4 linked regions of the Homo sapiens genome follow. Changing the gene in region 3 together with the main gene of any one other region gives a genetic interaction. Each region holds a gene or a part of one and is shown on either strand. Other genes may lie near its edges.

Region 1 (5,512 bases), on a different chromosome or scaffold from region 3:
CCCCCCAGACGATCTCGGCTCACTGCAACCTCCGCCTCCAGGGTTCAAGCGATTCTCCTGCCTCAGCCTCCCGAGTAGCTGGGATTATAGGCGCCTGCCACCATGCTCGGTTAATTTTGTATTTTTAGTACAGACGGGGTTTTCACCATGTTGGCCAGGCTGGTATTGAACTCCTGACCTCAGGTGATCCGCCCACCTCCGCCTCCCAAAGTGCTGGGATTATAGGCGTGAGCCACCGCGCCCGGCCAAAAAAGACATTTCTAAGAAGATATACAAATGACTGATAAACACATGAGATGTTCAACATCAGTAGTCATCATGGAAATGCAAATCAAAACCAAAATGAGACATCATTTCACGCCTACTGCAGGATGACTATAAAACATATGACAAGTGTTGCAAGGATGTGGAGAAAGCAGAACCCCATACACGCTGGTGGGAATGTAAAATGGTGCAGCTAGGTGCTTTAGAAGAGTCTGGCAGTGCCTCAAAAGGTTAGTCAGAGTTACCATACAGCTCAACAATTCCACCCCTAGGTATATACCCAGGAGAAATGAAAACATAGGTCCAATATAAACACTTGTACGTGACTGTTCACAGCAGCATTATTCATAAGAGCCAAAAAGTGAAAACCACCTAAATGTCAATCAACTGATGAATGAATAAGCAAAGTGTAGTAGATCTATTTTGAATATTATGCAGCAATAAAGAAAATGATGTAATGATAAATTCTACAACATGGACAAACTTTGAAAGCATTATGCTCAGTGAAAGAAGCCAGTCACAAAGTCATGTTCATATTCTGTGATTCCATTCATATGAAATATCCACAACAGGCCTATCTATAGAGACAGAAAATAGACTGGCACTTGCAAAGGACTGGGAGAAATGTATAGAACAGGGGGTGACTGGTAAAAGGTGGAGAGTTTCTTTTTCAGGTGATGAAATGCTTTAAAACTGACTATGGTGATGGTTGCATAACCCAAGACTTTGGACTGTACATTTTAAATGGGTAAATTATATGGTAGCTAAATTACATCTTGATAAAGCTGTCACGTTAAAAAAAAATCAAACTAGATTATAGACATTTGGGGTTTTTCACCCCAAGGTAACAAAATAAGTTAAGCCGTCCATTACAAGAAGTTTTCCACTTGGTAGATTTACTAATAGAAATCCAACACTGGGCTCTGTTTTCACATACCTCCTATCTGTAGCTCTGGACAACCCATTCGTCTCATCTGTGTGCTGACAGACTCAATCTCTTGAACAAGTGGCACTAATATTGTCTCATTGATCCACTAGAAGAAATAAGGTACAGATTTTGGATACATAATTCCCAAGTAGCTGTCAAATAATTACTTTCTTTTTTACAAGCAACTCTAAGAATTTTTTTTACTATCTTATAGTTGAATATTAAAAGAATCATAAAGTATAGTGAAAGAGAATGAAAGTAATAGCTACCCGAAATCAAGAGATGGTTAAATAAATATGCCACTGGAGTGTAAATTAACTAACTTACATTCCTTTTTTTTTTTCGAGATGGAGTTTCGCTCTTGTTGCCCAGGCTGGAGTGCAATGGCGCAATCTCAGCTCACTGCAACCTCCACTTCCCAAGTTCAAAGGATTCTCCTGCCTCAGCCTCCTGAGTAGCTGGGATTACAGGCACCTGCCACCACGCCCAGTTAATTTTTTGTATTTTTAGTAGAGACGGGGTTTCACCATGTTGGCCAGGCTGGTCTTGAACTCCTGACCTCAGGTGATCCGCCTGCCTCAGCCTCCCAAAGTGCTGAGATTACAGGCGTGAGCCACTGCGCCTGGCAACTAAATTACATTCTTAAATAACATGTTTTTATTTTTTTTCCTGAAAAAAAAATATAAAACTTTTAGCTATATGTTAAATTTTTCTTAAAATTTTCTGATTATTATGTTTAGCTAAAAGGATAATCTTCAGTTTACATTTGTAGGGTAACTATTCACACATTTATTAATGTAGTGTTTATATTGGTTTGCAATCAGTAAGATAGTTTTTCAAACTAACATAACTGCCTAACTCTCAGCAGGCTCACCCAATTCCCTAACCATGTGGAAAAACAGAGACTTATTACATTTGAAACTGGCTTTTGAATATTACAATATTACTTTAGGACTGGGACTTTCAAATGCCTTTTCCATGGCTAATATAAAACTAATGCTGGGATGTGAAAAGACTAAGGATACATCCCATCTGGTTTGTGTGTTATTATTTTGTGTATGTGTTTGTAGCAACTTCAATTACCACTTCTGTTTCCATGCTTTTGTTTATCCATAAAATAAAAGGATGAAAAAATGTTTCCAATGAAATACAATATTATAAACAACTGAAACAAAAACCTTCTGGGAACTTAAAAGATTTCTTGTAATCCATGTAAGGAAGCAAATTTTGATATACTGGCAAGACTTGAACTGAATTCACATGAAGCTATTTATAGGCTTTATCCCACTGAGTGTGACTATTCATATGTTTTTCTGCAGAAGTATTAATGTGGTTGATTACTGAGTGTTAACTAGACTCTGGTGTTATAAATTATACGGTACAGGTATACATGTATTGCTTAAAAAAATCCAAAAACTCTAAATTTTATAGCACATGGTCACCTAGGGACTTCAGATGAGGAAATGTATTTGTATTTCTTCTAAGTAGCTAATACTCTGTCTGACTAAGACTTCATATTTTAAACATGTTAGCATTTTTAGACTAGCCTATAACAGAAACTACAACAAACTCCAGTTTCAGGAGATGATTTGACTCATTCATCCTTCCAACATTTACTACATGCATCTTAATTTGCCAGCTGTGACAAATGGTACAAAAGAGTACAGCTGTACTCTTTGGCTGTAACAAAATTACCTAACGTGTCCCAGAGAGAGGTCTAGGCCCCACCCTTATAAATTCTAATTGAGTAAGTCTAGGATTGGGTTCAGGAATTATCCATAAAATGCCATCCAGGTTTCTGTTTCAATAAAGTAGGCTACCATTTTTTGCCCCTCTATTTTGATGCCCTATTTAAATAAGAGTAAAAGGATAAAAAATGAGCACAAGTGATTTCAAAATAGTTCTAGAAGATGCAGAGTGGATGGATGAATGTTGAAGGATGAAACAACAGAAGTAGTAGCCCCTTCAGAGCTAAGTGGAGCTCCGTATAGTGGAAGGGGAAGTCCATATGCCTAACAGAACCCAGAACACACAGGTACTAGAGAAGGTGGGAGGAAGACGTGGAGTTGGAAATAGGGAACTCACTCACTCTGTATATGGAAAAGTTGGCCCAAGATTAGAGGGTTCTTCTCTAGAAAAACAGAAATCATAATCTACTTTGAAATAGCTTCAAGCATATGTTGTCTTATCTCTCTAACTCTTTAAGTTTTCTGAGGGCAAGGACCTCATTTTTGTTTCCCCTCACAATTCTAGGTAAATAAAAGGCTCCAATAGAAAAGCTCTTTGGAAAATAAAACTGAGAACTGAAAAGGGAGGATCTCAATAACTAAACATATTATTCCTTTATCTTCTCAAAACATAACAATTCACTAAATATGGAGGAAGAAAAAAATCTCATGAAAATAAATACCATATAGTAACAGTCATGTTTATCCTTATATATGTACCATTCATACTGTACCTTTATAACTAATATTCTAATTTATAATGAACTCTAAATGATATTCTAATAACATGCTTTGCATATTAAGAGGCACTAATATTGTCCAAAGAGTAATGTCAGAACTTACATTTCTAAATTTAGCTGTCCATGAATCCATATGATCAAGAAGTTGTCTATTCATAGCCACTCTTGCCCAGACCTATAAAAATTCATGTTTAAAATGAACAATCAGTGAGGAAAAATCTTGATAGAAATCATCATTCTTTCTCCCATCCTAAAAAATATTTAATGAACTTTGAAAAAAAATTTCCCAAACATCAATATTCATCTAATTAATATTCAGTAATTTTCTTATTACTCACTTATAAATGCTGTTCACACACAGATTTATCTTTAAAAGTTCCTTACATTGGTATGTGTAAAGAACATTTTTCTTGCTTTTTTTTTTTTTTTTGAGATGGAGTCTCTCTCTGTTGTCCAGGCTGGAACACAGTGACGCAATCTTAGCTCACTGCAACCTCTGCCTCCCAGGTTCAAGCAATCCTCCCGCCTCAGCCTCCTGAGTAGCTGGGACCACAGGCACACGCCACCATGCTGGGCTAATTTTTGTAACTTTAGTAGAGACAGGGTTTCACCATGTTGGCCAGATGGTCTCAATCTCCTGACCTCGTGATCCACCCGCCTCTGCCTCCCAAAGTGCTGGGATTACAGGCGTGAGCCACTGTGCCCAGCCCATTTTTCTTGCTTTTAAGAACAAAATAAAAATTCCATATTTGGTATTAAAGTGACGAAATTACTGACAAATATTCTAATCCAAATATATTTTAAAAGCAAGACTTCTGTATGTGTTAAGTACAATTATATACCTGAGAGCCTTTTTATAATCAATGTAAAAATATGTTTCAGGCAGGGCGCTAAGGTGAACTGTGTGTCACAGAGTAAAATGTATGATATAATTTAGTTTTTAGTTTTAGGCACACAAAGTAAGACAGGAGCTTTCCCACTGCCTAATGTGTGCCAGATTTACATTTCTGTCCAACAGAATGGAAGATTACAGAAAAAATGTTCCAGAAGTAGAAGACTTTCTAACAATGCATAAATCATAAATATTAAGTCACTTTTATTTTCCACTTACCTCTTCTGCGGCTTGTTTAGAGCTGAGATCGGCTTCATCTTTGTTAGCACATGGGGCCTGAGACCTACAGGCAAGCTGATACTGAAACTTCTTTAAAGTTTGTGCATAATCCCCCATAGAACGACTATAGTTCCAGAAAGTAGGACTGCTGGAAGGAGAGGTAGAATCTGGGCTCCCTACAATTGTTAAGATAAACAGTATCAGTGTGTTGTAGCAATTCTGACATCTACAGTTAACACTTATATCTAGGCAATGGCAATCCAGGAATCAGAAGACCAACCCTCAAGGAGATTCTCTTCTCCCCAACATAATTTTCTCTTTAGAGATCACAGTCTGCTTGTGATTAAAAATTTTAAATAGTATTTTCTGAGCCATATCAATTTAACAGTCATAAAAACAATAAGCAGTCAAAGGCATCTGTCTAGTTCTGTTGAAAAGTTAAGCTCGTTTCATTCTCTAAGACTTTTAAATCATTTAGTAAGAAACAAACAAAAGACAAATTTCTTTAGGAAATAAATAGGCCAAGCAAGTTCTTTATTTGAAATTTCTAGAAGCTCTTTCTAAAAGGGATAACTATAGCCTCCTACTAAAAGATTACTCTCCTGGTAACAAGCTAAACTTATTTGTCCCTGTACTTCACTGTGTTTTACTTAACAGCCTGTGGTAATTCCTGAGTTGTACTAAAAGACTATCTGATGGTTATCCTTCTAAATTTATAAATTTACTTTTAAGAAATGTAAAA
Region 2 (4,973 bases), on a different chromosome or scaffold from region 3:
TAGAAGAGATTTAGTGGCTGGGTGCAGTGGCTCACACCTATAATCCCAGCACTTTGGGAGGCCAAGGTGGGCAGATCACCTGAGGTGGGCGGATCACCTGAGGTCAGGAGTTCGAGACCAGCCTGACCAATATGGTGAAACCCCATCTCTACTAAAAATACAAAAATTATCTGGGCTATGGTGGTGCACACCTGTAATCCCAGCTACTCAGGAGGCTGAGGTGGGAGAATTGCTTGAATCCAGGAGGCAGAGGTTGCAGTGAGCTGAGATAGCACCATGGCACTCCAGCCTGGACAACAGAGAAGACCCCGTCTCAAAAAAAAGAGAGAGATTTAGTGGTTAGTTTAGGTCCTTCACTGGGATTAAAGTTGGGCCATAGGTAATTCAGTAAATTAGTTTCTTAAAATGGCTTAAGAGAATTCTTCTGAGACAAAAGGCAAACAGTTTTGGGTCATTTTGTTTTAAAAGCTGAGTAGGTAAATACAGCCATTTGTTGAGCACCATCAATGCGCAATGCAATGCACTTGAAATATCACCCACTTCCCCAGGGCTTTCTTAACTGACAGAAAAACGGGGAGAGTGACTTGAGTAGAGCATAAACATGACTAGGAAAAGTACTTAGAGCATAAATAGCGGTTTCTGAGAGCCTTTAGTGACTTTCTAGGAATATTTTCACTACCCTCTCCACTTTGATAACAAATACACTTTGATGTAGTCTCAAAGGAAATCTTTAGGCCTATGCTTCCATATCATTTCCAACCCCCAACAATAACTTCATGTGATGAAGTTTAACAACATTATAAATGGAAGGATGAGTATACAGTTCAGTAGCTCAAGATAATGGATATAAAGATCCAATAAATATAAAAGCTACCTTTTATTTAAAACGAGGCATATTCTTGGGTGCGGTGGCTCATGCCTGTAATACCAGCACTTTGGGAGGCCAAGGTAGGTGGATCTCTTGAGACCAGGAGTTCAAGACCAGCCTAGCAACATGGTGAAACCATCTCTACAAAAAATTAAAAAATTAGGCATGGTGGCCCATGCCCGTAGTCCCAGCTATTAGGTTAGTGAGAAAGTAATTGTGGTTTTTTGCCGTTAGTGGCTTTTTTTTTTTTTTTTGCCATTAGTGGCATTAGTGGCAAAAAAACCACAATTACTTACACACCAACCTAATACTTGGGGGGCTGAGGTGGGAGGATGGCTTGAGCTCAGGAGGTGGAGGTTGCAGTGAGCTGAGACTGCACCACTACACTCGAGCCTGGGCAACAGGTGAGTCAAAAAAAAAAAAAAAAAAGGCATTTTCTGAAACACAAGATTTAAGTGAAAGTAGTATTTGTAAGCTGGAAAGCCATGTACAAGTGCTAGCTCTAATTCAAATTTCCCACCCTTAATTCTTTCTTGTAAAGGACTGTCTTCAATTACATCCTGTATTCTTTCAATGGAACAAGAACACACGTTAAAAATGGTATTCAAACAAAGAAATACAGCAACTCAGTTTATTACATGCAGATTCTTCTGCATTGTTGCTAACAGTTCACTGGTCCAAAATTACTAAAATACTTAAAAAACTATACATTATGTAAACAAAACATAAATAAGACAGCATAGTTCTTTGTACATATATTTAGTACAGGTTGTTAGGGATTCTGGAATATGTACAATTTTACATCATGGACTGCATTTTTCACAATGCATAAATATATATATGTATTTTTTTTTTTACAGAAACAAAAATAAGATTTCACTAATGACACTGAATACCATATCATAGATATGCTGCAACAGTCCAAATTCAAGAAGAAACATGTCAATGTAAATGTGCAAAAGGCTAGCTTACTCTAAACTATTCAAACTTTGTTCACTTTATGTTCTACAGACAGGTAAATCCTGACTTTAAACACAGAACCTTGAAACCCTCCTCAGAACAGTAAGTGAAATGGAACAGATCTTTCCCTCCCCAAGAAAACAAAGCCTTGTTGCAAGCTAATGAAAAGATACATTAAAACACACACACACACACACACACACACACACACACACACACAATGTATAGTATGCTTTCAACAGTATAATAAACATTGAAAATTTTTATGGGAGTCAAAACAATGCCCCATTATTTAAAAACTGGCTCTTTTAGTCTAAATTCAAGATGCAGCTCTGTCAGGCTTCTCTAAGCCCGACGACTGAAAAGCAGGGAAGACAGACGCAGGACTTCGACTGGCAGATACAACAATCTGAGAGAGAGATGGAGAGAGTGAAGAAACCTTAGATGCTGGAGTATTTATGGTATTCAAAATGGCTCCTTCTGGGCTAACCAACAATTTTTTGACAGGTGGGTCCAAATGAAACACTGAAGTGCTACTTGGCAGTGGAGGATTACTGGGGCAAATGGCAGAAACCAAAGATGTCTTAGCCAAAAGAGTAGCTGGAGACTTAATTACTGAAGTCAGTGATACTGTTGGTACAGGAGGTGGAACAGGAACCTTAGCAGTTGTGTTTATGAGTTGTGGTGATGTATGTACTGTGGGTATAGAACTTGCATTCCCAAAAGAGTTTATAAATTTTGTAGGGCTTCTTAGAGGATGTTGTAGAGGTTGGCCACTTAAGGAATTATTTGATGCTAGTGTGATCTTCTGGGCAGAGTTATCTATTGGTGTAGATTGAATGCCTTGGCCACTGTTAAGAACTAAGGGGGCTCCATATTTTGGATTAGTAGATATAAGGAGAACATGGCTGCCAGCTCCAAGACCTTGTGGTGGAACAATAAACCGGGTTCCGTTAATCATAATCTGAGTACCAGGTGCCAAAGGTGTACTGGTATTGATGACTATTTTTTGCTGAATACAAGGTTCACTGAACTGACTCCCGACTAGACTAGTTACATTGGATGGTGCCGAAGCCGTGTGAATGGTAGTGCCACCTGGAGCAGAACTGTAACTGGGGGTTTTTACTAAAGCTTGCTGATTTGGCAGAGAAGCAAAATTGGACGTATTAGTTATTTTACCTGGACTTGTTGAAAGGGACGACAATTCAGTTTGAGGTTTATTTGTGTTTACATTTGTTGGCACTGTAGTTGAAATCCCTGGTGAATGGAACTGGAGTGAAGTCCGAGATTGTCTTTTAGAAATAGATACAGAACGTGTGGCTCCTGGTACTGCTGCCGAATGTGGAACTGTGTTTATTATTTTAGGGGATGTAGTCGCAGGTGTAGGTAAGGCAACCGTAACAGGAATTTGCAAAGCTGATGTTAAACATTTAGGAGACACTACTGGTTGTGTAGTTGAAATCAGAACAGATGATGCAAGGTGTCCTGTTTTCACAGTTGATATAGCCACAGTGTTTCCGAGACTTGATGAGCAAAGTCTATTTGACAAAATAGGCATAATTCTTGAAGAGGTATCATTTCCACTGACTAAAACAGGAGGTTGTGCCCCAGCTGAAGCAGAGGCTGAGGTCACTGGAAAGGAACCCAAAGATAAATTTGCTCCGGTAACTGAAAGCACATTTACTGCTCTTGCTGAAGAAACCACTGATTCATTAACAGGGGTAATATTCTGACTCACAAAATTTGAGCTTACTGGAACTGAATTACCACTTGTTGACAATGGCAAAATATAGCCCTTGCTACTTTTGTCTTCTCCTTTTGGGGTTACATTTTGTAATATGTTAATTGATGGTATAGCTGGCACAGTGCCTGAAGTATTTACAATTGCTTGACCTATGTTTAGTCCAATTTTCACATCCTTTATCTGAGACACAGCTGGTGATGAATTTATTTTTATTGGTGTGCCCACTGTAGACGGAATCAGTACTATTTGGGGTTGCTCTGGAGTCTTAACATATGCTTTATGCAATGGAGGAGGAAGAGTTTGTTTTAATGATTCTGCAACAAGAGTTGGGGTTGATGTACCACTAGGAACTGGGGCATTAATAAAAACTAATTTCTGGGCAGAAACACCTGTAGATGTCAGCGCAGGTGTCATATTAATTGCAGTTCCATTGCCAGAAGAAAGAATAGATGGAGCTGATACCAGCATAAGTTTCTGAACTGGAGTCCCACTGATTACATCTCCATTTGTTGCTGCTGTTGCTTCTGACCTTGTAACAGGGTAACTTTTTGTGATATAATCTACTTGTTGCTGTTTAGTTGGAGTATGAATAATATTTGCATTGTTTTGTCCAAAATTTGCTGCTGATATGCTAATTACACTTACCGAACTACTTGTTGTTGATGGTAGTAGAGTACTAGAACAAATAGAGGACTTCAAGGGAGAAGAGGGCATGTGTGAAGTTTTATCTATCACGTGGCCCAAATCACCACTGCCAGTGGTGTGGCCTAATGTAAGTTTGAGATTTTTCCCCATGGATGGGGCAAAGCTAGCTGGAATGGAAACAGAAGTTGGTGTTTGGCTAAAAGGTGAAAGACTAGATGTAGTAGTTGTTCCAGCTACAGGTGAAAAAGCAGAGGAAGAAGTTGTTGATTTTGGCACCAGAAATGCCTGCAGCTGAGGAGCAAAAGTGAAAACTGAACTTGAAGATACAGTATTGGGTGAATTTTGATCTGGGTTGGTCTGTACTTTTACAACTCCAGTGTTCCCACCTCGTGTCCTAACAAGAATTGACTGTGAATCTCTTATGCACACAGTTTTCAGCTCTTGCTTTGCTTCAGAAGAATCAGCAGTCTGTTGTGCAAAACAGTTGAAGGAACTACCAGGATTTGTAGACCCATTTAGTGTTGTTGTTGATGACAGAGGCTGACCTGTGGAGGAAATGGTCGGTGAAGCACTGGGCAAGGAGAATGTGGCTGCTGAAACTGCATTCTTGGCTTTTCCTGCCTCACTCTGGCTAGTCTTAACTGATGGTGTTAATAAGTTACTTACAGAGGTTACAGGCGACAAAGGCTGTGGTCTAGCACTACTTATATTTGATAAAGGTGTAATTGTTTTGTTGAAAGCTGTATTTGGTAGTTG
Region 3 (4,122 bases):
TGTAGGGGCCTACACCTTCTGAGGAGCAGGAGGGAGCCACCCTCCCTGCAGCTACCCTAGCTGAGGAGCCTGTTGTGAGGGGCAGAATGAGAAAGGCAATAAAGGGAGAAAGAAAGTCCTGGTGGCTGAGGTGGGCGGGTCACACTGCAGGAAGCCTCAGGCTGGGGCAGGGTGGCACTTGGGGGGGCAGGCCAAGTTCACCTAAATGGGGGTCTCTATATGTTCAGGCCCAGGGGCCCCCATTGACAGGAGCTGGGAGCTCTGCACCACGAGCTTCAGTCACCCCGAGAGGAGAGGAGGTAACGAGGAGGGCGGACTCCAGGCCCCGGCCCAGAGATTTGGACTTGGCTGGCTTGCAGGGGTCCTAAGAAACTCCACTCTGGACAGCGCCAGGAGGCCCTGGGTTCCATTCCTAACTCTGCCTCAAACTGTACATTTGGATAAGCCCTAGTAGTTCCCTGGGCCTGTTTTTCTATAAAACGAGGCAACTGGACTGTTAGTGGTTTTCAATCTTTTCTTTTAGGAAGTTTTATTTATTTTTATTATTTTTATTTTCCCAATGAGCCCTCTGCACTCCTAAGGAAATTTTATTTGATGAGGACCAACTGGTGACATAAAATAGATTCCAAGCTGCAATGCCCCACTGACTCCATCTCCCTGACCAGGGAATTCCAGGTGCTAAGCAGCTTTGTTTAAAAACCACTGGACCAGATGGTATCCCTGGTTCCTGCGTATTTCACAAGGTCCCCAGGGCTAGGCATCTTCTACATGACACATATGGCTGCAAACACTTAGATTCTAATTGTACCCCAAAAGATGTTGTTAAAAGGCTGGCTAGCCTGGGTTGGGGGACAGACGGGGGCTGGGGGCTGTTTCACGGCATAAGCTCAGGTCAAGGGGCCGTAGCTGCAGTAGAGCTGGGATAAGGTCCTGCTCAGAGCAGGCCCCAGATTCCTGCAGGAAGAGAGGCAGCGAGGGTCACGCCCTGGGCCTAGGGCAGCCCCAGTCCCTGCCACTCCCTCCAGGTTCCGTCTCTTGCCCTCACCTCTGTAGACGCCCACACTTAATGGTGCTCAGCAGTGTCTCTTGTTCCTTGGGGGTGGCACAGGCATCATAGGCGGCCAGGAGGCTGGGGGGCAGGGGTTTGAGTTTCTGAGGCTGACAGTGGCCCACTCTGGGCCAGCACCATGAGGGGCCAGGCAGAGGGGTCAGCATGGGATGGAAGAGTTGGGACACTGCCCCACTTCCTGAGCTTGGCACTCAAGGCCCCATGCCAGCCGGGCTGTCCTCCCTCCCTGTGGGAACTCTGGGGCAAAACCAGCAAAGGCTCCAAACCTTCACCCTCACTCCCCTTAATGGCCCAACCCCTTCTCCAGGAAGCCTCTTCTCCACCAGGTGGGACGTCTCCCTCCCTCCTGTGGCCTCCACTACCTGGGACACTATGTGGGCCTGCTGGCTTCCTCCCCACTTGACCTCCACGAGCACCCTGGGATCTGTCTATCTCTGGTCTGCAGAGCCCACACAAGGCCAGGCCCCCTCCACGAAGCATGGATTAAGGTGAATTCCATGCATGGAGGGCAGGGGCTGAGGACACCTAAGGGCCCTTTAGGGCCTACCTGGCAGGGGTGCTGTATCGATCCACCAGGGCTGCTGCCTTCTCCCCACTCACTCCGCGCACCTGCATCAGCTGCCGGGCAAACACTTCTCGCACCGACTGGGCCTGGGTTCGGGAAAGGGCTGGATCAGTGGGGGTCTGGGCCAGGCCATGTCTGAGAAGCTAGGCAGAGACAGTACCTTATTCTTGATGGCTCCTGCGTTGAAGTCACTGAAGGTGAGGAGTGAGCAGAGAGGGTTTGGAGAGGTCATGGCCCCTGATTCAGGGTTCCCAGGGGTTCCCCAGGGGCGGCTGCGTAGGGTGTGGCCCTGAGGGAAGAAGGGACTGAGGCCAGGCTGGAGCTCGAAGGAACAACTCCAGCCAGCCCCTGCCCAGTCCTCAGCCTTGGGGGGCCAGCCTGAGAAATGGGGATCTCACCCACCTTGCTTCTTTTGGGGATGCACAGGGCCCAGGCAAGGTGAATTCCTTGTGGGCTCTGTCCCGACACTGGGAAAGGGGCCTCTGCTCACCTGGTAGAGTCTCTGCAGGCCCCGCGTCAAGAGGGCCAGGTAGGCGGCTGACTCCTTAATGTCTGCTGTGCGCTTCACAAAAAAGCCATCAATGACCTGGGGAAGAGGACCCAAGAGAGGGAAGGTGGCTCCTGGCCTAGACCATGAACCATGGACCACAGGGGCCCCTGCCTGCCTGCCTGGCCCTGCCCTCCCAGCTCACCTGAGTGTTGGTGACAGCCTGCAGCAGTGTGCTCTCAGGAAGGCTGAGGTTGTGGACGGAACCATGCTCTTCCACCAGGTATACCCGGCGCTCCAGACCACAGCGCTTCAGCCGGAACTAGGGAAGTGTACAGAGTGGACAGGGAGGGTCAGGCTGGATGACCACATGCCTGGGCATCCATGATGTCACACTCAAAATGGTGCCGGGACCCTGTTCCCACCAGTTAGCCTCTGCATCCTCCCTAGCCTCTCCACCTGCCTCACAGGGGCCTCCGCAGCTTTGCTCATGCTGACACTCTTGTCTAGAAAGCCTTTTCTCCATCTCTCAACACTGCCCATCCTTCAAGCCTCCCCTGGGCCGGCACATGGCCTCTGTGACTAGGGGTCCACCCAGCAGCAAGTACCAAGGTACAGCCTCTGTATTTCCACTCCTGGAGGTTTATGCCTTGTTTATCCAAGACTGCAGGGGCTGGGTACCCAAGAGGTCTTTAAAATGCTCCTGACCTCAGCCCAAGAATGCAGGTACCTGGCTTCCTACTGTGCGCCTGGATGGGCCTGTGGGGGTCTGATCCTGGAGCAGCCACAGGGTGGGTGTGGCTGGATTCCAAAGGGCTCTGCCTCAAGGAGGCTGCCAGAAGTGCCCCTGGATTGCTCTGGGCTGAAAACGGGGCTTCGGAGCAGGCAGGGAAGCCTGGCAAAGCCAGCAAAATTACCTTCTGCTCCCGGAAGCGGCCGTCGATGATGCTGCTGCAAAGGTCATCCAGTCGCTTGCGCTCCACAATGTGATCCAGTACCAACTCCCCAGGGTTTGCTGCTGACAAGCCAGCCGTTAGCTTGCGATCCCCTACCCACCAGGCCCTGCCCCTGGTGCCAGCCTGTCCACGGCCCTTCACCTGGGTCTCTAGGATTGGTCTCCTGGGCCACCCACACAAAATCTCCAACGTGCAGCTTGCGCACCGTGTGGGTCACGTGCAGCCGCTGTAGCTCTCGGAGCAGCTCCGGCCTGTGCCCGCCCCTGGAGTGGCAAGGAGGGAAGCCTAGATCAGAGCAGGGCAGTGCCTACCCCCCAGCCTCCTCTGATCATCTCCCTCGTTTCTCCCCACCTCACTCACCCCCGGGTCTCGCCAATGTCCACACACAACAGCACCCTGTACTCTCCAGGCCTCAGCTCCAGTGGCTGCTGCTGGACCCCTGCTTCACTGGCACTAAGTGGGGGGTGTTGGTATGTGAGGCCAGAACCCCTTGTGCCAGGGCAGTTGCCCCACACCCATGCCACCCGACACCCACCACCCACCCACAGTAGGGAGGCAGCCACAGTTCAGCTGCAGGTGATGGGTTGGGGCGGGGCTTTGGCCTCATTTCCCATCCCCTCCTCCCTGTTTTCCCCACTCCTCTGCCCTCCTCCTCACAGCTCTGCTGAAGCTGCTCCTGGCACTGCTGTCTCCTCCCCAGGGGGCTCCTTGGGCCCGATGCCCACATTCAGCAAGCTCAGGCCTTCTGACTCGGCCAACTTCTGGGCCAGCTCCAGGCCCTCTGGGGTCAATGAGTACCTGGGAGGCAGAGGGGACAACACAGCTCTACCTTCTTCACTCATTCCTGGCAGGCTTTCCTGCCTGCCCCCAGCTGGGCTGGCCTCACCACCCCCTTGGCGCCCTGCACAAATGACCCCAGTGGCTCCTGCTCCTCCTGGTCTTCTTGGCTCTTAGAGCAGTTCCTTGGGCCTGCTCAGCGCCATTCTCAGGTCTGCAAGAAGTGTGTCTCAGACAATTTCCTTCCTCCTGTCTTCACTAATGCTGT
Region 4 (5,512 bases), on a different chromosome or scaffold from region 3:
ACTCAGAATGAAATAATGTATGTAAAACTTCTACTGCAATTCTTAGTACAAGTAAAAAATAGAAAATTATTGTTTTAATTGGAATGGTGAAATTAAAAGGCCAGACCAGATATTCAAAGTATGTAAGATTATTATAGCACACCTAATCTGGAAGAATATGTTTCATATGAAGAAAAAGGTATGTGCTTGTATATGTGTATATAAAACACATAAAGTAACGTTGTTATGAAGCTGTACGTGCAACTAAAATATTAGAAGTCTAACTCATGTGAATTTATTTCAGTAGCAATAATATAGAAAAAATATGGATAATCCTTTACATATTGTTATAATGGGATACAACTGAATGATGAAAAAAGAAACTTCATTTTAGGGGTTCAGGGCTATGGTGCTAATTTCAGCTATTTTCTAGAGCGAATTAAACTTTACATTATTTTCAAAATTGAAATAGTGCACAAAATTTGTCTTTGTAGTAGTGGAAAAGAAAATAGAATTGCAGAGAAAGGAAGGAATTAATTCAGGCCTCCAAAAGATCTTTTCTAAGCCTTCTGCAGGTAGTCAAAAGACAAAAAAAAAAAAGTTAGTAAAAATGTAAAACAAAAATTGTTTAAGTTAAAAGAAAGATCCCCCAAAACAAAATCTGTAACTTGAAAGAAAGGCAGATATGCAGAATGCTGTACAATTTATCCTGTCATTTTTTGATGTATATGCTATAATACAAATTTTTATATGGATGATAATTTATCATCAATAAAAAACTTATATGTCTGCTCTTTATAAGCCATATGAAATGAGGCATAGACTGGAGAAATGACAATGAATTATGATCAACAAAATATCACAATTTGAATTAAGACTTGATATACAAATACCGATGAGAAAAAATTAAAATTAAGAGTTAAAGAAACAAAGTCAAAATATAACTATGCAGTCTTAGGTATAGTTCTTATTTTCAATTAATCCACTGGCATTCTGTTTTATAAAAATATTTCTCACTTCACTGAGGATAGTGCTGTGATAAAATATAAATGATTAACAGTTTACCTTTGAGATCTTCTACAGTTTCCTGTGCTGACAACTCCTACACAAATGAAAGAAACAAAAATCAATAGATGACTCAGCTGACCGTCCATTTCCAGACAGTCGGCAATAACTGACAGCAGTCACTGATTTTCTAAATGGCATGTAGGGGAGAGACAATACAGTGTTCACTCTCCTTAAGCTTCTATAAAATGGGGCCCAGAATGGATACAAACATATGTAAATGTGGACATTCAACCGAGACAACTGTACTGTGACAAAGGGAGATTTGCTACTAAGAAAGTAAGCAAAGAAGGAAGAAGCCACTACTTACACTATAGTGAATGGAGCTCAACAAAGTTAATCTAGAAAAAAGGTGATTTATTGACTTCCCAAAAAGACAAGTGTGATTTAAAATGGAAAGCAGAGGTGATATCCATTTCAGGTGGAAGGCACTGCAGATATGATGACTTAAATGAATGACAACAGAAAGAAGCAAAGGCCTACATATTGGTTCTCTGCCCAGTGTGGTTGACCCAGCAGCGCAGGTGGACGGCAGGGAAGGCCAGAGAGTGTGCTTTGAACACACGACTGGGCATTTATTTTATGGTCCCAAGGGCACCCTTCAGGCCATTTCCAGACCCTGGGATGTGATATTCCACTGTACACGGGCCAGTGATTACAGCATGCAAGCTACAATCACTGCTGCTGAACACTCCCATTCTAGGTGAGATCAACATCGAAATCACATGAAGAGGGTGAAACAGGAAAGAAGACCACTAACCAATGGCCCAGAAGAGTGATGAGAGGTTATGCTTTGCCCTCTGGAGCTGCAGCGGAGGGGAGGCGTGGAGAGGTTTCGACTGGCCTCTTCCTTTTTGCCATTGTGAATCTGCCTATTATTGCTAACCCAACATGAGAAACACAAGAGCAGTGAGCGATATTATCAAACAGAAGCATGACTCTTTTAGTACTAGTCTAAAAACTTTTTTTCCTAGAGTCCATTTTGTTATATTCCTTACATATAAATCTTTTTTTGTTGTTGTTAAGAGACAGGGCTTCGCTCTGTCTGGGTAGACTGGAATGCAGTGGCACGATCATGGCTCACTGCAGCCTCAAGCTCCTGGACTCAAGTGATCCTCCCACCTCAACCTCCCAAAATGCAAGGTTTACAGGCATAAGCCACCATCTGCAGCAGATAAATCTTATAATAAACATTATTTTTAAATTAGAGGACATGCTATCTTAAGGAGCTATAAGAAATAATACAAGAATGGTGAAAAGAATGCTAACTCAAGAATTACTCTTAATATTTCAGTTCTATGTAATGTATTACTTTTATATCAACAAACACAAATGCTGTTCTTTAAAATACTCTGGCATGCTCTAAGCATTTAAATAACAACATTAAAAGCAGTGAAGGGAAATTTTTTGCAGTGCTAAGCCTAAGGCAAATGAATTCTAGATCTTATGAGAAGGTCATATTGACTTCCCAAAAAGACATTTATTGGGAAGCCAGTTAAACCATCTTGATTATGAATATCAATTTTATGCTTAAGTATATGCTGAAATATAAGAAAAATGCATATATTTCTGTCTGCCTATACTAGTAATTTCATAAACACTGATAAAAAACTTATTTTAATCAAGAGCAAAACATTTACATTTTGAAGTGTCACATTAATTGAAAATATTACCTTGGATTTCTGTGATTAGTTATGTGTTCACCTTTGGCCTCCTTGTCTTTATTTGGCTTTTCTTCCTTTCTGGAGGGCTTTTGCTGAATTACTTCTCCTTTGTCAAACATGAGGTGTAGGCGATAACTGACCAGTTTGATTATTGTGAAGAATATAGTCACTGCACTGCAGTAGAAAAATACAATGATCGCATTTGGAGGAAAAGCCTGAAGAAAGGAAAAGACAGAGAAAAATCATTTGCTTTTAAGATTTTCTTTCTGTTTTAAATCTGGAAGCATTTTTAGACTATCTATTGAATATAAATTAGGCAAGATTTCAAATTAGACTAATTTTTTAAGTTTTCCTGGTTAAAATACTTGAGGAGAAAGAGCTGCTTTTTATTTTTTGAAGTCTTTTTTGTTTCTCAGGTTCTGTAGTAGTTGCACTGATAACCAACATTTGATTTGCAGGCAGGAACCCCACAGAACAAAAGATATATTCGAGGAAACCTCTCCATTTTTTTTTTTTTTTTTTTTTGAGACAGTGTCTCACTGTATCACCCAGGCTTGAGTGCAGTGGCAAGATCTCGGCTCACTGCAACCTCCGCCTCCCGGGCTCAGACAATTATCCTGCCTCAGCCTCCCGAGGAGCTGGGATTACAGGCATTCACCACCATGCCCGGCTAATTTTTGTATTTTTAATAGAGACAGGATTTCATTATGTTGGCCAGGCTGGTCTCGAACTCCTGACCTCAGGTGATCCGCCCACTTCGACCTCTCAAAGTGCTGAGATTAAAGGTGTGAGCCACTGTACCCGGCCTCCATGTTTGATAAGCTCTTATCTATGGCCTAATCCAATGCATCTTCCTATGCAGCTCATCTTAAAGGCCAGAGATGTATTTTGTTTTCAACAACAAAACACAAAAAGCCTTGTGGAGAACAGAAGGAAAAAGAAGGGAGAAAGGTTAGGGTAACCACTCCCCCATTCCCCTCCCTAACCTCCCACTGCGATAACGCCTGCAGGCCATGGATTTCCCTAGGGTTGTATTGCACACAGGGAACCACAAAAGGGTACTACTTCCAAAAGGAAGAGGGATATTTCCAGCAGAGACAAATGATCTGAGCATGGCGACCATAGTGAGGTTCAGCTCAATTCTATGCAATCCCTTCAAGAAACAAAACGAAAAGAATCACTGGGACCCGTGGAGTTGTCCCACTCTGTAGCATCTCCCATATACCTTCCTAATTCTCTCCAGGACCATGGACTATCACACGTTCTCTGGTCCTTCCTAAACTACATTCCTATTCTTTGGGATGGAAAGAGATCCCCAAGTGTCCCAAGGTGATATCCAGGACAGCCTCAATGATTCGCAAGACCATTTTATCAATGGACTTCCCTAAAGAATATCAGAAATCCAGTGATCCGTGTAGCTGGTGCCTCAACCTAAACATAGCTAGGCTTGCAGACAGCAGGGCCCAGTCCATATCCATGCCTAAGCAGACCCTGTACAGCTTGCCGTGGTCCCATGCAAGAGTCTATCTTCCAAGTTGGACTGTCCCTAAAATGGAATAGCCAAACAGAGCACAAAAAAGAAAGAGGAAGATGATCAACAAGTAAAAGATAAAGTCAGAGATTTTCACCATCACTTAACTCGCTCTTATTATGTCATGGGGGGAAAAGTCCACAAATAAATATAAAGCAAGCAATAAATAAGTGACGGAATAACTATATAAGATGATACAAGCTAGATAATAAAGCCAGGTCCACTACCTGGCAGCAGATAAGGTTTATATTTACAAAAGGTGCATTTGTAAATATAAACCTTATATTTACATCCTAAATACTACTAATACGTTAAAATACTACTAATTTAAATACCACTAAATTAAATACTACTAATAGTTTTGGGTTTCAAAAATTTAAGCTAAATCTAGAGAGTTAATTTGAAGAGGGTAAGAAGGAAAAGAAAACCTGCAGATGTCCGTGAAAACAGATTATTGTTATATAAAAATGATATTCCGCCAGGCATAGTGGCTCATGCCTGTAATCTCAGCACTTTGGGAGGCCAAGGCAGAAGGATTGCTTGAGCCCAAGAGTTCAAGAGCAGCCTGGGCAACATAGTGAGACCCCCCCTCCGATCTCTACAAAATTTAAAAATTAGCCAGGTGTGGTGGCATGCACCTATAGTCCTTGCTACTGGGGAGGCTGAGGTGGGAGGACCTCTTGAGCCTAGGAGTTCAAGTTTACAGTGAGCTATAATCATGCCACTGTACTCCTCCTGCCTGTGCTACCAAGTGAGACCCTCTCTAAAAAAAAAAAAGGAATTATATTCAAGAGATTGTTGAATTTTCATGTAACTAGGGTTTCATAGTACTCTAGTCAGCAAGGGTAGCAAAGAGAGTTAGTGATCACTAAATACTCCATCCTCTCCTCTTCATTTCCTAGCTTCTCTTGCAGTGAGGCTGAGGCCATATGACTACTTTTGCCCAATGGACAATGAGCACAAGTGCTGGCTTAGACAATTATGAGCTAGGTGCCTCCCGCATCCCACTCTTTTCCTCTTTACTTGGTGACCTCAGAAGACATGTTTTCCAGATGATATGTCTATAAGATGATGCAGTTTCTTTCAGACTAGGTACCTGAGTAACTCTGCGGAGCAAGGCCCCTATAAACACAAGATGAGCCCATAACGGAATAAGTAGTAAACTTTTGAGTCATTAAACCACTGAGATTTGGAGTTGTGGCCGCTGTGGAAGCTAGCAATACTTAATTAATAACAGGGGGGTCCATTTTCATGAGGAATCTTCCATTCAAAT

What was found. A genetic interaction does not mean that the proteins touch.
Region 1: changes in MUS81 (region 3) and TMEM209 impair growth when combined (synthetic growth defect), as found in Homo sapiens cells (one large-scale study listed by BioGRID).
Region 2: changes in MUS81 (region 3) and BRD10 impair growth when combined (synthetic growth defect), as found in Homo sapiens cells (one large-scale study listed by BioGRID).
Region 4: changes in MUS81 (region 3) and PCNX2 impair growth when combined (synthetic growth defect), as found in Homo sapiens cells (one large-scale study listed by BioGRID).

The regions. Positions count from the first base shown.
Region 1 is NC_000007.14:130,180,422-130,185,933, forward strand, and holds part of TMEM209 (transmembrane protein 209), read right to left. Parts: intron 4,947-5,512; coding exon 4,771-4,946; intron 3,835-4,770; coding exon 3,763-3,834; intron 1,299-3,762; coding exon 1,202-1,298; intron 1-1,201. UniProt on the Homo sapiens protein: Nuclear envelope protein which in association with NUP205, may be involved in nuclear transport of various nuclear proteins in addition to MYC.
Region 2 is NC_000009.12:5,917,537-5,922,509, forward strand, and holds the end of BRD10 (uncharacterized bromodomain-containing protein 10), read right to left. Parts: coding exon 2,148-4,973; 3' UTR 1,486-2,147; downstream 1-1,485.
Region 3 is NC_000011.10:65,862,818-65,866,939, reverse strand, and holds the end of MUS81 (structure-specific endonuclease subunit MUS81), read right to left. Parts: intron 3,876-4,122; coding exon 3,735-3,875; intron 3,531-3,734; coding exon 3,438-3,530; intron 3,363-3,437; coding exon of another isoform or gene 3,341-3,362; coding exon 3,219-3,340; intron 3,140-3,218; coding exon of another isoform or gene 3,137-3,139; coding exon 3,039-3,136; intron 2,444-3,038; coding exon 2,327-2,443; intron 2,221-2,326; coding exon 2,125-2,220; intron 1,924-2,124; coding exon 1,795-1,923; exon of another isoform or gene 1,794-1,794; intron 1,721-1,793; coding exon 1,617-1,720; intron 1,130-1,616; coding exon 1,046-1,129; intron 955-1,045; coding exon 888-954; 3' UTR 501-887; downstream 1-500. Other genes in the region: EFEMP2 (EGF-containing fibulin-like extracellular matrix protein 2 precursor), read left to right, coding at 1-22. UniProt on the Homo sapiens protein: Catalytic subunit of two functionally distinct, structure-specific, heterodimeric DNA endonucleases MUS81-EME1 and MUS81-EME2 that are involved in the maintenance of genome stability.
Region 4 is NC_000001.11:233,260,241-233,265,752, forward strand, and holds part of PCNX2 (pecanex-like protein 2), read right to left. Parts: intron 2,924-5,512; coding exon 2,718-2,923; intron 1,926-2,717; coding exon 1,805-1,925; intron 1,082-1,804; coding exon 1,045-1,081; intron 1-1,044. UniProt on the Homo sapiens protein: May play a role in tumorigenesis of colorectal carcinomas with high microsatellite instability (MSI-H).